Regions from separate parts of the Homo sapiens genome. Here region 2 is linked to region 1. A link means that fine-mapping ties the variant in region 1 to the expression of a gene that starts in the linked region. Tissue or cell type: whole blood. Region 1 holds a variant in brackets; the other region holds the start of a gene. All regions are shown on one strand. Distances are from middle to middle.

Region 1 (8,185 bases):
AGTACCCCAGAGAGAAAAAACAGAGCAGGCATCCGAAGAGGACTTGGAAAATTTCATAGAGGGCACTCCAAAGAATAAGGCTCTATGAGGCACAGGACTGGGGTAAGGCCCTCACTTGCTCAGATCTGAGGGTGGTATAGGTACAGCCAATCTTCAACTGTATGCAAAGCTTAAAGGAGTAGCAGAGTAAATGTATGGTTGAAGAGAAAATGCTTGGTTAGTTTCTAATCTAAATCTTATATGATCTATATAATAATGTTTCCAAAGATGGAATGAACATCTAACATTAAAGTTCCCCATTTACACAGGCCATGAGCCCCGAAACACCCATCCCAGGATTGCTGATGGGTGTTTCGGGGCTCATGGCCTGTGTAAATGGGGAAGTTTAAACATGCCCTTGCAGCATGGCTGCCGCATGAGAGGCATGTTGGAAATACAAACTGTTGCAACCCATCTCAAACTTACAAAATCAGAATCTGCATTTTTTAAAAACTCCTAGGTAATTCATATGTTTTAGAGGCATCTTTTTTTATAACACTAACTTTGAATTTAGTGCAGCATTATGTGAACTGGGCTGTTCTGTACATGTGATAATTACAACGAATTTAACAGTTACCCTTGTGTTTATGTCTTCACAAATTACGTGAGAAACCGTAAGGGGGAAATGCCAATCCCTGTCCTAAGAGTGCTCTCACGCTTTCTACTATTTGCTTCCTCTTGTGTCTAAAAGTTTTCAGACAGCTCATGACCTTTTCTATTCAGCTCTTCAAATCTGCCAAGTGTTTTGCTGAAACCCCTTCTTTATCTGATTGGATGTATTACATCTGATCAAATTTGCCTGTCAGCTGCTTGCAGCAAGGGTGGAATTACAGGAAAGTTAAGTGGGAACTTACTTGTATTTAATGGGAATCTTTTATAGTAAAAGTAATCACAGTGAAATCAAAGCAAGTACATTCTGACTTGCCTAGGGTGCAATCATGTCTCATTCAAACTAACTTCACAAACCCAGTGAGCAGCTAGAGAATATTCATAAATTCACATCAAAACACTTATGAAAAGTGAAGTCATTTACCAATTGCACTCCAGTAATGATCCATTATCTCAATAGAGATCTTCTTACTTTTAAATGTGAGGCTAACTTGTATAAATTAAGACTTAAATATTCCCAAACAACACTGAAAACCAAATTGCCTGTTCCCATACCTAATTCCAATAACTAGGATTTTTCACTTTTTTTTTTTTCTTTTTGAGACAGAGTCTCACTTTGTCACCCAGGCTGGAGTGCAGTGGTGTGATCTTGGCTCACTGCAGCCTCCATTTCCCGGGTTCAAGGGATTCTCCAGCCTCAGCCTCCTGAGTACCTGGGTTTATAGGCATGCACCACTACATCCAGCTAATTTTTGTACTTTTAGTAGAGACAGGGTTTCACTATGTTGGCCAGACTGGTCTCGAACTCCTGGCCTCCAGTGATCAGCCCGCCTCGGCCTCCCAAAGTGCTGAGATTATGGGCGTGAGTCACTGCACCCAGCCCTGGATTTTTTGACTTTCTGTTTCTCAACACCTCTTTCCTTCTGATGGCTCTTTACTAATTAGTTCAGACTTCGTTCAATTAATTTGATGCATTTAGTTCTCTACTTCTCTTCCATTGTTCTCTTTCTCTTTTCAGCCTTCTCTTTCTAAGCTTCTCCCCACATTCTAATCTAGTCTGGAAACATAGCCTATTTTTCAGTCATCAAAACTATCCTGTATTACCTATGTAGCAGGAAAAAAAAAAAGACCACTTGATGTTGAATTCAATTTGGAATGATGTGATTTAAATATTTCAAACAATATTGCAGTTCCAGTGTACCTTGTTATCTAACAATATTGCACATTTGAGAGTATTATTTTCTATGCTGGTGAATTTAATGTAGAAATATTCAAGATAAACTACAACAACTCATAGACTTTTTCAAGCCAAAACAAGGCTTTTTCTACAATTCATTCAAGAAAAGATATTCACTCGGCAACTTTGATAGGAAATACATGATGCTAGAATGTAGAAAAATCAGAGAGGAAGATGTGATCCTTGCTTTAAAGATGTTTACAACAGATCAGCTAATCCAGCCTGTTTGTAAATAACAACTCACTCAAAGAAAAATAGGGTTAGTCCCTTTGAAAAGTTACTAACCAAGTGCTTTGTGAATAGACAGCATGATTAATTTGGGTGACAGGGCAAATCTTTGCTGAGGAGATGCAATTAAAGATATTAAAGAGGAGGAGGTGCAAGAATATGCCACAGGGAACAAACATGCATGTTGGTACAAAATGTTTTACAAGTTGTGCGTTTGTAGCATGGTAAGTCATCCAGGGTCAACATGGATCATGCACCTGGGAATCTGGGGGAATAACAGCTTGGAAAAGATGTTTGGGGCCCAACAGTACAGAGTTTCAAAAAACATGTTGACAGATTTGGATTTTATTGAGGCAAGCCATGCAAGAGTAGAGTACATAAAACCAACGAGATCAGATCTGTGGTTGAGAAAGACAAAACTAGCACTGAAGTGGAGGATAGAGCACAGAAGAAAATAGTAAGTTATAAAATAACCAATTTATAAATAAAGATAAATATATGTATGCTATTAAATTTCACAATACAGGCATATATACAGTCACAATATAAAACCATGCAAAATTTCAAATTGCTATAAGTACATTTATCTGAGCCATGTATTTAATAGTTATGTATAGATTATCTATTATTGACCATGGAAAAAGTGAAGTTAACATATTATAGCTGGTATTTATTGATTACTTTCTACCCACCTTTATTTCAGAAAGGATTTCCAGTGCTTACAAGAGTATCTAAAATTATAAAGTGCACAAGTCTTGAGGCAATAAGAGAGTACAGCATAGTGATGAGTTCTCAGATTTTGAACTAAATATAAGGGGGGCAAGATACAATATTAAAATAACCATTGCATGTAAACAGAATTACCATATGATCCAGCAATTTCACTTCCGGGTATATACCCAAAGGAATTGAAAAGAAAACTCAAATAGATATTGGTACACCCACATTCATAGCAGCATTATTCACAGTAGCCAAAAAGTGGAAGTAACCCAAATATCCATCAATGGATGAATGGATAAACAAAATGTGGCATATACATACAGTAGAATACTATCCAGCTTTAAACAAGAGGAAAATTCTGACACCATGCTACAACATGGATGAACCTTGAGGACTTTATGCTAAGTGAAATGAGCTAGTCACAAAAGTACAAAGTATAAATAGTGTATGATCCCACTCATACGAGGTATCTAGAGTGATCAAATACACAGAGACAGAAAGTAGAATGGTAGTTTCAGGGGCTGAGGGGAATGGAGAATGGGGAGTTATTATTTAATGGGTACAGAGTGTCAGTTTAGGAAGTTGAAAAAGTTGTAGAGATGGATGGTGGTGATGGCTGCAAAATATGAATGTAGTTGATACTACTGAACTTTACACTTAAAAATAGTTAAAATGGTAAACTTTATATTATGTATATTTCACCATAATTTTTTTTTTCAAGACGCAATCCTTTTCTGTCACCCAAGCTGGATTTCAGTGGCACGATCTTGGCTCACTGCAACTTCTATCTCAGGGATTCAATGATTCTCTTGCCTCAGCCTCCCGAGTACCTGGGATTACAGGTGCCTGCCACCATGCCTGGCTAATTTTTTTTGTATTTTTAGTAGAGACAGGGTTTCACCATGTTGGCCAGGCTGGTCTCAAGGTCTCAAACTCCTGACATCAGGGGATCTGCCCATCTTGGCCTCCCAAAGTGCTGGGATTGCAGGCATAGTCACCATGCCTGGCCCATAATTTTTAAACGTTTAAATTTTATTTATTTATTTATTTATTTTAGATAGGGCCTTGCTCTTTTGCCAGGCTGGAGTGCAGTGGCTACATCACAGCTCACAGCAACCTCGACCTCCTAGGCTCAAGCAGTCCTTGCACCTCAGCCTCTTGAGTAGCTGGGACCACAGGTGCACACCACCAAGACCAGCTAATTTTTTGTATTTTTTTTGTAGAGATGAGATCTTGTCATGTTGCCCAGGCTGGTCTCTAACTCCTGGGCTCAAGCCGTCCTCCCATTGACCGTCCAAAGTGCTGGGATTACAGGCCTGAGCCACCAGGCCCTGCCAATGTTTAAATTTTTAAAAAGAACCATACCACCTAAGTTATTCTTAATCTTAATGGCTACATATAATTGTATTATATTCATCTATTGCATTATTTATGATTACATAATTGGTTTGTTTCTATCAACCTTTACTAAGCCCCTTGTACATCTCCAGAGCGATGCTAGGCGGAAACTGGTGATATAAAAAGAATCTTTAAAGGTCCAATGAGAATAGAAATTATATGCTCCATTAATCAATATGATATAAAAGGGATTTAATCCTTTCAAACATTGGCAAACACATATAGAGGGCTTATTATTCTCTGATACACTTTCCTACAAACCTTACATCCATTTACTCATTTAATCATCACAAAAAATCCTGTGAGGTAGGGATTTCAACTGGCTACAATTTAAAGATAAGCAACTGTAAAGTGTCAATACCTTGTCATCCAAGGCCACACAGCCAAGGAATAAATGGTGGAGTTGTCAGTTCAGCTACAGTATCCATGGTCTTAATCATCAGCTAGAAGGCCTCTCATGTGAGGAGGTTGTATTTTTCAGTTCCTCCCAGTTTTTCTCTGACTTCTTTGGCTGATTTTCTCGGTCTCTTTTTTAGAGCTCTCTTGCTTCTCCTGCTCCTTGGATATTGCTGTCCCTCTGATAACGGTTGTAGTGAAACAATGTGTGGCCAGCAGAATTCTAAGATGGCACCAAGACTACTTTTTCCTGGTGTACATGCCCTGCATAATCCCAATGACTGTGAATAGCATGGATTTTGCCCTGGGATGAGGGTATGTTATATGACACAGTTGACTTTTAAAAAGGGAGATTATCGTGGTGAGCCAAACCAAATCAC[A/G]TGAGTTTTTGAAAGCAGAAAATTTTTCTCAGGTTTGTCCCAGGAGAAGTCAGAGAAATGCACTCTGGGAAGGGGAAACTTTTCTGTCTGTTGTCCCCACTACCGCCCCTCGCATCCGTGATTCTGAACCCCATGATAAATCCCCTTTGAACCCTCTTCCTCGTTTTGATGCTGATCCCCCTTTATGGGACTCCAGTTGGCATTATGATAATTCTTCTCAGCCCAGTTATGCCCCTCTACCTCTTTGGCATCCCCGGGCACCTTGGATTGCTTCTTTACAGCAGAGAACATCGGGCGTTGCCACTGCCGCTCCTCTCCCTCAGTATCAATGTAGATTCAGACATTCTGCTTTGTTTACCTCCAGCCTGACTATTCCTATATAGAATTGTGTTAAGCCTTCTTACATGCTGTTAGTGGGAAATATCAAAATTTGGACAAACAATCAAACTGTCCAATGCATTGTCATTTATACACTTGTGTTAACCCCCATTTTGACTCCAGGAAAAGTGTAATGTTGCTTTGAGCTCAAGAAAGAATCTGGATACCAGTAACTTTACCCAGACCTTGGGAATCTTCCCCCTCAGTATATTTAATTAATGAAGTGTTAACAACGAATTCTCAAAAGATCTAAGAGATTTGTTTTCACTTTAATCGCTGTGATCATGGGCCTAATTAGTCACTGCACTGGCCACCACTGCCGGAGTGGCATTACACCGATCTATTCAAACGGCTCATTTTGTTAATGATCGGCAAGCCAATTCCACCCAAATGTGGAATGCTCAACAGGGCATTGGTCAAAAATTAGCTAATCAAATTAATGATTTAAGACAGTCTGTTATTTGGCTTGGAGATCGGCTAATGAGTCTCAAACATCGCATGCAAATGCAGTGCGATTGGAATACTTCTGATTTCTGTATCACACCATATTCCTACGAGATTGATCATTCACGGGAAATGGTCAAAGGACACCTTCTGGGTAGGGAAGATAATTTATCCTTGGACATAACTAAATTAAAGAAACAAATATTTGAAGCCTCTCAAGCTCATTTATCCATTGTGCCTGGAGCTGAGACGTTAGATCAGGTGGCAGAAAGTCTTTATGGACTAAACCCCACAACTTGGATTAAGTCTATTAGGGGCTCCACTGTAGTAACATTGGAATTATGTTTCTCTGTTTAAGTGGCTTGTTTTTAGTGTGCCAGACCAGTCAAAGAATCCTGCATCAAAACTAAGAGAATGAACAAGCCTTCATCGCCATGGCACATTTATATAAAAAGAAAGGGAGAGATGTTGTGGGAAGTCAGGGACCCTGAATGGAAGGACCGGCTGGAGCCATGAGAGAGGAACATAAATTGTGAAGATTTCATTTTAATATGGACATATATCAGTTCCCAAATAATACTTATATAATTTCTTATGCCTGTCTTTACTTTCATGTCTTAATCCTGTTATCTTCATAAGCTGAGGATGTATGTCACCTCAGGACCACTGTGATAATTGTGTTAACTGTACAAATTGATTATAAAACATGTGTGTCTGAACAATATGAAATCAGTGTACCTTGAAAAAGAACAGAATAACAGCGATTTTTATAGAACAAGGGAAGACAACCATAAGGTCGGGAAAAAAGAGCCATATTTTTCTTCTTGCAGAGAGCCTATAAACGGACATGCAAGTAGGAGAGATGTCGCTAAATTCTTTTCCTAGCAAGGAATATTAATATTAATACCCTGGGAAAGGAATGCCTTCCTTGGGGGAGGTCTATAAACGGCCGCTCTGGGAATGTCTGTCCTATGTGGTTGAGATAAGGATTAAGATACACCCTGGTCTCCTGCAGTATCCTCAGGCTTACTAGGGTGGGGAAAAACTCCACCCTGGTAAATTTGTGGTCAGACCAGTTCTCTGCTCTTGAACCCTGTTTTCTGTTGTTTAAGATGTTTATCAAGACAATATGTGCACCACTGAATATAGACCCTTATCGGTAGTTCTGCTTTTGCCTTTTGCCTTGTGATCTTTGTTGGACTCTTACTAGTAGTTCTGCTTTTTGCCTTTTGAATCATGTGTTCTTTGTACCTACTCCCTGTTCTTACACCCCCTCCCCTTTTGAAACCCTTAATAAAAACTTCCTGGTCTAAGACTCAGGCGGGCATCATGGCCCTACCAATATGTGATGTCACCCCCAGCGGCCCAGCTGTAAAATTCCTCTCTTTGTACTATCTCTCTTTATTTCTCAGCTGGCTGACACTTATGGAAAATAGGAAGAACCTATGTTGAAATATTGGGGGTGCGTTCCCCCAATACCTAGGGCATTACTGTACACTACTGTAGACTTTATAAACACTGTACATGTAGGCTACACTAAATTATAAAACTAATTTTTCTTTCTTCAGAAATAAATTAACCTCAGCTTACTCTAACTGTTACCAGTTCAGTCCTGATGAATTAACTGGGAAAGTTCCTTTTTCTTATTGTTTTTCTTTAGTCTATTTATAGACACAACTGCTTAAAGAAATAAGATGGCCTGGGGTGGTGCCAGAGTTTCTTGACCCCTGACCAGATACCAAAGGAAGATCAGAATCCCCCAAACTGGCACAAACTGGAACAGATGACCCCCCTAGTTGCCTTTAGGTCATTAACATATCACTGTAACGCTAAAATTCCCTTCTGTAAAAGAAAATGTCCACCATTTTGTGACATGGATTGTATGAAGACATATGCACGAAATGAGCCTGCGTGTCTGGAGGCTGCGTGCCTACTTAGTCCTTAAAAAACCCATGCCTCTACTGATCGGGAAAAAGCGGCATTGAGAGTGAGAGCCCCTCCTCCATTCCTGGCCAGGAATAAAACCTGCTTGCCTCTTTTCCAACTGGGTGTTATTTTGGTTGATATAAAATAGGAGAAGAACTCAGTTTACTGGTAATGTAACTTTTTTACTTCAGAAACTTTATAATTTTTTTAACTTTTTAACTCTTTTGTAATAACTTTTAGCTTAAAACAAACCCGTTGTACAGCTATACAAAAATATGTTCTTTCTTTATTTTCTTATTCTATAAGCTTTTTCTTTTTTATTTTATTTTTTACTTTTTAAACTTTTGTTAACCACAAAGACACAAGCACACATATCAGCCTAGGCCTACACAGGGTCAGGATCATTGATATCACTGTATTCCCCCTCTGC
Region 2 (8,185 bases), 75 kb after region 1:
CCAAACTACCTAAAATAGATATTCAGTGGAAACAATAACTGTGTGCCTGTAAAGATATCTTCAAGTAATGTCCTCTAACCCAGAGCTGCACCCCTACTCCTTTCATTCCAAGTTTTAACTCAAATTCTGTCTTATATAGATATTTTGGAGCCACCAGTGAGACTTGACTATTGTCCTTTAGGAAGCAACAGAGACCTTATGGCCCCAAACCCTAAAATATTTACTGCCTGGCCCTTGGCAGGAAGTAGTTACCGAATGGTTGTTTACTGAGCAAAGTTGATATGCATCCATTTATAGTCCAAGTATTTATTAAGCATCTATACATCAAGTACTATGCTGTTATTTTCTATTTAAGGAGATTTCAGACAAATGAAAGATATAGACAACTTCTTAAAATGCTCACTAAGTGCTACTTTAGGGGCAAAAATAAGTTGTAAGATGAGCATATATAGGAGGCAGTAACCCAAAACTGGAGAGGGGGGACTGTAACCAAGAAAGGTTTCCTAATTAAAAAGTTTTCTAAGTTAATACTAGATGATTAGAAAGAGTTCACCAGGCAAAGGGGTAGAAGGAACAGCAATTACAAAGACCCACAGAAAAATTGGGAACTTTAAATATTTCAGGGATGCTGGGTGCTGTGACTTGAGCCTTGTAATCCCAGCCACTCCGAAGGCTAAGGCGGGAAGCTAAGGCAGGAGGATCCCTCGAGGCCAGGAGTTCAAGACCAGCCGTGGCAACATAGCAAAATCCCCCCATCCCCGCACCCCACCAAACTCCACCCCATCCATCTCTTTAACAAAATAAAAACAAAAACAAAACAACAATATATATCAGAGAAATATATCAGAAAATGGTCAGCAAAGGTTTAGAGATACCTATGTCAGGCTGATTGCATGGTAGTGGATGGAAGAACTGTCATTAATTTATTAAAACAGCACAAGTTGAGCCACCAGCCTAAGGTCAGAAAACATAGCCATCCACATGTGTGTCTTAGGATAAAAGGCGGGAAATGATTGTTGAGGGAAGCTGAAGTGCCACAGTAAAGGCTGGTTTTGTAGGAGGGTGACAGGATAGGAGTCAAAGGATTGGGATGAAATGTAACTGCAAGCCAGTAACCCTGACCTGGACAGGAAGATAGTGGTCTTGCTGGCGGTGTTCAGGCTCTTTAAGTACGTTTCCATAGACAAAGAACCTTAGCAACTCTTCTGGGACCTGCTCTCTGGTTGCAAGCTTTGCCTCCCTAGCAAATGAAGATAAAATAACCTTCTTCATTAATCTTTCCAAATCCCTCGGCAAGCCACATCTGAAATTCTTTCCCTGCTCCCCGACTCCTTTAAGAGAAAGAAAAATTGTCTGGCTCTGTCATCCAGGGAATGAGCCACCATATCCAGCCCACATCTGAAATTCTTTTGATGGTTATAAAGCCTTTTATCCCAGGATTAAAGATAAAGACTTAAAATGCAAATGTTGGCCGGCGCGGTGGCTCATGCTTGTAATCCCAGCACTTTGGGAGGCCGAAACCCAGCTACTCAGGAGGCTGAGGCAGGAGAATCACTTGAACCTGGGAGACGGAGGTTGCAGTAAGCCAAGATCGTGCCATTGCACTCCAGCCTGGGTAACAAGGCGAGACTCCATCTCAAATTTAAAAAAAAAAAATGCAAATGTTGATTGGGGTTAAAATATTGCAATTTTTTTCTGACTAAAGTACAATCATAAAATGAACAAACAGCTATCAGATCCTTTCCAGTTTTAATTTATCGGACTTTGAGGGAAGGGAAGGAATTTCTTAGATCCTTACTTATTATAGGCTAGTCTTGCTTATTCTCAAATGGAGCTAGGGAGGAATGGGTAAAAACTAAGAAGACATTTCGTCCGATTTAGGAAATGTGTGTTTTGTTTTAGTTGAGGTATGTCTTATTTTGTAAGATACTGTATATATTTTTAAGTAATTATTTGAGAGCATTGTTACAGATATATCACTTTTTAGGGAAAGATTTTTTTTGCCCCAGTTTATAGCTATTTGGTTTAAAAATTTCATTTAATTTTCAGAATTTTTGCCAGACTCCTCTGCCCCAATAAAAGGCTCTAGATTAGGTGTATCTTAGGTGCTCCCCAAACCCCTGGCCACCCCATGCATACCTTTTCATTATTCACTGTTTAATTCTCTGTCTCCGAGTCTAGATCCTAAGTCTCCATGAGAGCAGGGACTATTCAATTTTGTCTACTGCGTATTTCCCAGTTCCTAGCTCAGTGTCTGGTGCTCAAAAAATGTTCTTCGATAAATAGATGATAATAATATTGAAATATTGTGTATATTTCTTTGATTTGTTAGTAACTACAAATAGTTTATTGTGTATATGTCAATTAGCAGAAGAAAAAGAGCAGTTGTGCTCTTTTTTATAAGCATTTTTAGGAGTTACTGTGCACCTTATTACAAGAAAAGTGGCCAGGAATGGTGGCTTACACCTGTAATCCCAGCACTTTGGGAGGCCAAGAAAGGCAGATCCCTTGTGACCAGGAGTTTGACAACCAGCCTGGGCAACATGGAGAAACCCCATCTCTACAAAACAAAACAAAACAAAACAAAACAAACAAAAAAATTAGCCAGGTGTGGTGGTGTGGGCCTGTAATTCCAGCTACTCGGGAGGTGGGAGAATCACCTGAGCCGGGGAAATCAAGATTACAGTGAGCCATGATTGTGCTACTCACTGCACTCTAGCCTAGGCAACAGAGTGAGACTCTGTCTCTAAAATAAAATAAATAAAATAAAATAAAAGCTTAGGCTATAAAAAACAAAATTTCTATTAACATGGTCTTACTAAATACATATTGTAGGCCGGGCGTGGTGGCTCATGCCTGTAATCCCAGCACTTTGGGAGGCTGAGGCGAGTGGATCACTTGAGGTCAGGTGTTCGAGACCAGCCTGGCCAACATGGTAAAACCCTGTCTCTACTAAAAATGCAAAAATTAGCCGGGCGTGGTGGCAGACACCTGTAATCCCAACTATTGCAGAGGCTGAGGCAGGAGAATCACTTGAACCTGGGAGGTGGAGGTTGCAGTGAGCTGAGATTGTGCCACTGCACTCCAGCCTGGGCGACAAGAGCAAAACTCCGTCTCAAAAAAATAAAATAAAATAAATAAATAAATAAAATACATATTGTGTTTTATGTTTAATAAAGGGAATACAGGGAAGCTTTCCCTTTTCCCTTGGAAGGTTCACTGAAAAATCAACTGTCAAATGGCAGACTAATAGGAAAAAAGACATACAAAATTTATTTTAATGTGCATAACACAGGGAGATTTCAGGAGAATGATTACCCAATGACTCAATGGGGTAGAGACGTTTATATACTCTTCTTTATGGGGGAAAGGGAGATTGGGGAAATGTGGCAACTTAAGGTATAGTAAAGGACTTTTAGGGGAAAATGGGGAACATACAATGGCCTGGGAAAAAGTGTGTTGAGCCCATACAGCAGACAATAGTTTGTGACAAAAGTCTGTCCAAGAGTGTTGACAGACTTCAGTCTTTCTTCCTCCAATATGAGTTAAGTAAATGAAAAATCAGGTAAGGCAAATATGTTCCTCTTTGGCAGGTCTAGTTTCTAGGCAGATAAGGGAAATTCAGAGAACGACATCATTTGGTGCTTTGGGAGAGACAAAGAATTGAGAGGCAGGAGGGGTAATGGGGAAGGTAAGAGACACCTTGAAGCTGCTTCCTCAGTTCAGCGCGGCAAAGCACCATATTTTGGGGTATCGATTTCTGAGTCCCAACAATTTTTACATCACGTTCCAGACACATTTTATGACTTTTCTTCACTGCATACTTCTTTAAAACTCATCTTACTCTATTTTTCTAAAGGTATTTGCATTAAATGTGCAAAATACTAATGCTCTAAAGAGGAATATTTTGAAATATTAAGAATTATTTATATTTCAATGTAAAAAATGTGATTTTTTTTCTAGAAATAAAATTTCAAATTCAAATAGTTGCTTTGGGGTTTTTATAGAAGATGCATATATATATACAGATATATATATGTTCATTTCTATTAAAATCAATGTGCTAATGTTCATATGTGTTAATATTAATAAAGGTCCTAGGATTAAATTTATTCTGAAATAGACTCCTAGGATTGTGAAAGTTTGAGGTTAGTCTGGCAAAAGACACATTTAGGGGAATATCTTTCTTTAAAAAAAATTTTGTTTTTTTGCTGTCTCTTGATCTCCCGCCTCACACATTCCACTTTATTGACATTATAGAAAAATTAATTCATTTCAACAGCACTTTTACTTGCATTGCTTTTTTTTTTTTTTTTTTTTTTTTTAGACGGAGTCTTGCTCTGTCGCCAGGCTGGAGTGCAATGGCACAATCTCAGCTCACTGCAACCTCCGACTCCCGGGTTCAAGCAATTCTCCTGCCTCAGCCTTGCGAATAGCTGGGATTGGTGGCACGCACAACCACGCCCAGCTAATTTTTGTATTTTTAGTACAGACGGAGTTTCACCATGTTGGCCAGGATGGTCTCGACTCCTGACCTCGTGATGCGCCCGCCTCAGCCTCCCAAAGTGCTGGGATTACAGGCGTGAGCCACCGCGCATGGCCACTTGCACTGCTTTTTAGCAGCGAGCTCTCAGGTCAATCAACTGCTTCCTTAGGTTTACAAACTGTGGGTGTGTATTTATAAACACAGTTGTTTTGTATATCCTTTGTAGAGCACGTGGTGAAAGTGACACAGGAATAAATGCAAACCTTTTTTTCCCCTTCTTTTTTCAAAGACATAAATCCCAGGAACACTCACAACCGCAGAAGGGGATTTGATGGACATACAAAGAAACTAAATTTTGTACCGCCGCAGAAGTGAAGCATGGATAAGCTCAAAGGTATTTAGGCAGTGTTTTATTTCAAGATTTGTTATGGGGACCTCCGCCACGCCCTGGTCCGCCTTCACCAGGCCGGGCAACACTGCCCAGTCCCTGAGACCCGGCCGCCCACTAGGGAGCCGCGGGGGCGAGGCCGTGGGGGTGGCCTCGGGGAGGAGGTCCCGAGAACCACACTTCCCAGAGTGCCGTGCGCAGCCCCGCCCAGCCCGCCCCGCCCCCAGAGGCCGCGGCTCGCGGGGGCTGAGGCGAGAGGACGCCAAGCGCCCGCCGGGGCTCCGCGGGGCCGCGCAGGAGAGCGCGCGTCCGCCGGGTGCTCGCGCGGGGTTGGTGAGGTTCCGCTGAGGGCGGCCGGGGCTCTGGGAGCGTGGTAACGTGGCTGCAACCTTAGCGACATCAGGAAGAACAGGGTCGAGGATCGAGGTAACGGGACGCTCGTCTCCCCTCAGTCCCCTCGTCTCCCCTCAGTCCCCTCTTCCTTTGTGCGGTGCCGTCCGCTCGCGCCGAGCCCTCCCTCACCCCAGCCCCCAAGTCGCAACACCGTCCCGTCTTGGGTCTCCGGTGTGCGGAGGAAATTCGAGCCCTCGTGCACCAACCGAAACTCCACAGCTGAGAGGGCTTGGGGCCCGGACAGCAGGAGATCCAGCCCCTGAGCAACCTTCCACGGCTTTTGTCGCCCCCATTGGCGGGAGGAGCAGGGTTATGCTCCCGGCTCCCGTAGGGGAGCTCCAGCCTCTGGCTCTGTCAGCCTCCCCGGCAGCTCCTTGACTCCTTCCTCCCAGTCTTTCGAAGAGGGGCCCAGGCAGGTGCTTCGCGGGGTCCAGGAAGAGGGCAGGCGCGGTGCGGCTGGCGCGGGTTCGGGGCCCCGGGAGGGCGGCCGGACGCCCCCTGGAGCCGCGGCCTGCGGGGGCGGGGCGAGTGGGCCACCTCCGGGCCACGCCGCGCGGGGACGAGGCGAGGAAGGCACTGCCTGTCCCCACTCGGGGGGCTTGCTGGCCGCCCTGGAGGTGCCTTCCCGGGAGCGGCGGTGTAGACCTTGTGGAGAGTGCCTCCTGATGTGGAACCAGGAACCGCAGCCTCTTTCTAGACGCTCAGCCGCCCGGTGGAGTTGTTACCGCCACGATGACAGCTCTTTACGCCTTCCACTCCGTGCTGGGTTCAGTTGGCTTGCTGTTTTCTTCAGAGAGAGCGATTTGGCTACATAGCTTGAATTTTCTACGTGTCTCGTGCTTTACTGGACTTGCACTGTTTTTCCCTCTTGGCAGTGTTTAATCGGGTGACTTTTCATAGAAAACGTTCAGTATTTTCATCTGTGTTAATGGCATAACTTTCTTCTTGACTCTGCCCTAAGCTAATGTTACCAGTTTAGAGGGATACTTTGGGAAAAGGTCCTTAGAACCTGGGTTGACATAAGTATTTTATCTGCTGGTTGCACGTTTTTTCCTTTGCATTGTTTTTCTCCTATACAAGATGGTAATTGTTGGACTCTTGGTGTTCTTTATTCTCTCTCTAGAAGGAAATCCTCTTCGCGCATCTTTCTCGTGTTCTGGCCCTGCGGTACTCTTGGGTACGCAGAGGACTGCTGCTAACAGTGCTGGCGCCTGGAACGCTGCTTGGAGATGGCGGTGGCATTAAGCTGCTGCTTTTCCTCAGACTTCCTCCTGGCACCCTTCTTAATTTGTCAAACTGACCCAGTTCAAACTTCAAACTTTTAGTCACTTTATTTATTTCGTCACTTTTTAAAAAAATTGCTTTCAAGATACCAAAATTGCGTAAGCCTAAATATAAAAAGAGGTGTCTCAGGGGCCGGGTGCAGTGGCTCACGCCTGTAATCCCAGCACTTTGGGAGATTGAGGCGGGGGGATCACTTGAGGTCAGGATTTTCGAGACCAGTCTGGCCAACATGGTGAAACCCCATCTCTACTAAAAATAACAAAAATTAGCTGAGCGTGGTGGCACATGCCTGTAGTCTCAGCTACTCGAGAGGCTAAGACAGGAGAATGGCTTGAACCCGGGAGGCGGAGGTTGCAGTGAACCGAGATCATGCCACTGCGCTCCAGCCTGGGCGACAGAGTGAGACTCCATCTCAAAAAAAGAAAAAAAAAGTCTAAGGATACTCTATTCAACTACATATGAGCACTTAGCTTCATCATTTTAATTTTTAAAGCTGCCAATTCTTTTAGCATTTGATAAGATTACTGATAATTGGTTAAGATGATATATTCTGTAATAATTGCACATTTTTTGACAAGAAACTCAGTTCACATTCAGTGAGGGTTATTTTTTAAAAACAGTATTTCTTCATTCATTAAGAAGAAAGTTAGGGCCGGGCGCGGTGGCTCACGCCTGTAATCCCAACACTTTGGGAGGCCGAGGCGGGCGGATCAAGAGGTCAGGAGATCAAGACCATCCTGGCCAACATGGTGAAACCCCATCTCTACTAAAAATACAAAAAAATTAGCTGGGCATGGTGGCGCATGCCTGTAGTCCCAGAGACACGAGAATCACTTGAACCTGGGAGGTGGAAGTGAGCTGAGATCACGCAGCTGCACTCCAGCCTGGCAATAGAACGAGACTCCATCTAAAAAAAAAAAAAAAGTTGGGTAAATTTTGATCCCACCTGCTATTTTGAAAAATGAATTTTCTTTTTTAGAGCAGTTGTAAGTTCACAACAAAACTGAGTGGAAGGTATAGAGATTTCCCATGTATCGCCTACCCCTACAGAGCCAAAATCTCTCATCAGAGTGGTACGTATATTACAATTGATGAACCTACATTGACATGTTATCACATCCACAGTTAGGATTCATTCTTGGTGTTAAACATTCTGTGGGTTTGGACAAATAACCCTTTTGTTTTTATCAAGAACTTTTGAGAGTTGTAGAGAACTGAAATGGATATTGTCATTTTAAAAAGATTAAAGAGACTATTGCAGACATCTTAAACATTAATTTCAGATAGTTTTTGTGTTTTATAAATTGAATGTTTAAATTTTTGGTTACTTATATTGGAATTCCCAAGAGTCACATTTATTTTTGTATATTAAGAACTAAAGGGCCCCACATGGTAGCTCACACCTGTAACTGCAATTTGGGAGGTCAAGGCAGGAGGATTGCTTGAGCCCAGGAGTTTGAGACCATCCTGGGCAACAAAGTGAGACCTTTCTCTATATTCCAAAAAAAAAAAAAAAAAAGAGGCCAGGCTCGGTGGCTCATGCTTGTAATCCTAGCACTTTCAGAAGCCAAAGCAGGCCAATTGCTTGATCCCAGGAGTTCCAGACCAGCCTGAACAACACGGCGAAACCCTGT

The links. PIP is the estimated chance that this variant, and not a neighbour inherited with it, causes the effect.
Region 2: KLHL8 starts here. The variant in region 1 is fine-mapped to the expression of KLHL8 in whole blood (TOPMed, PIP above 0.99).

What each region holds. Positions count from the first base shown.
Region 1 is chr4:87,292,692-87,300,876 of GRCh38, reverse strand. It overlaps MIR5705 (microRNA 5705), which reads left to right and starts at 294; the gene lies at 294-382. The variant A/G (reference allele first, on the strand shown) is at 5,008.
Region 2 is chr4:87,217,533-87,225,717 of GRCh38, reverse strand. It overlaps KLHL8 (kelch like family member 8), which reads left to right and starts at 5,100. Exons shown (of 10, transcript NM_020803.5): 1 at 5,100-5,300. RefSeq lists silencers at 4,881-5,370, 5,711-5,980 and an enhancer at 5,486-6,098.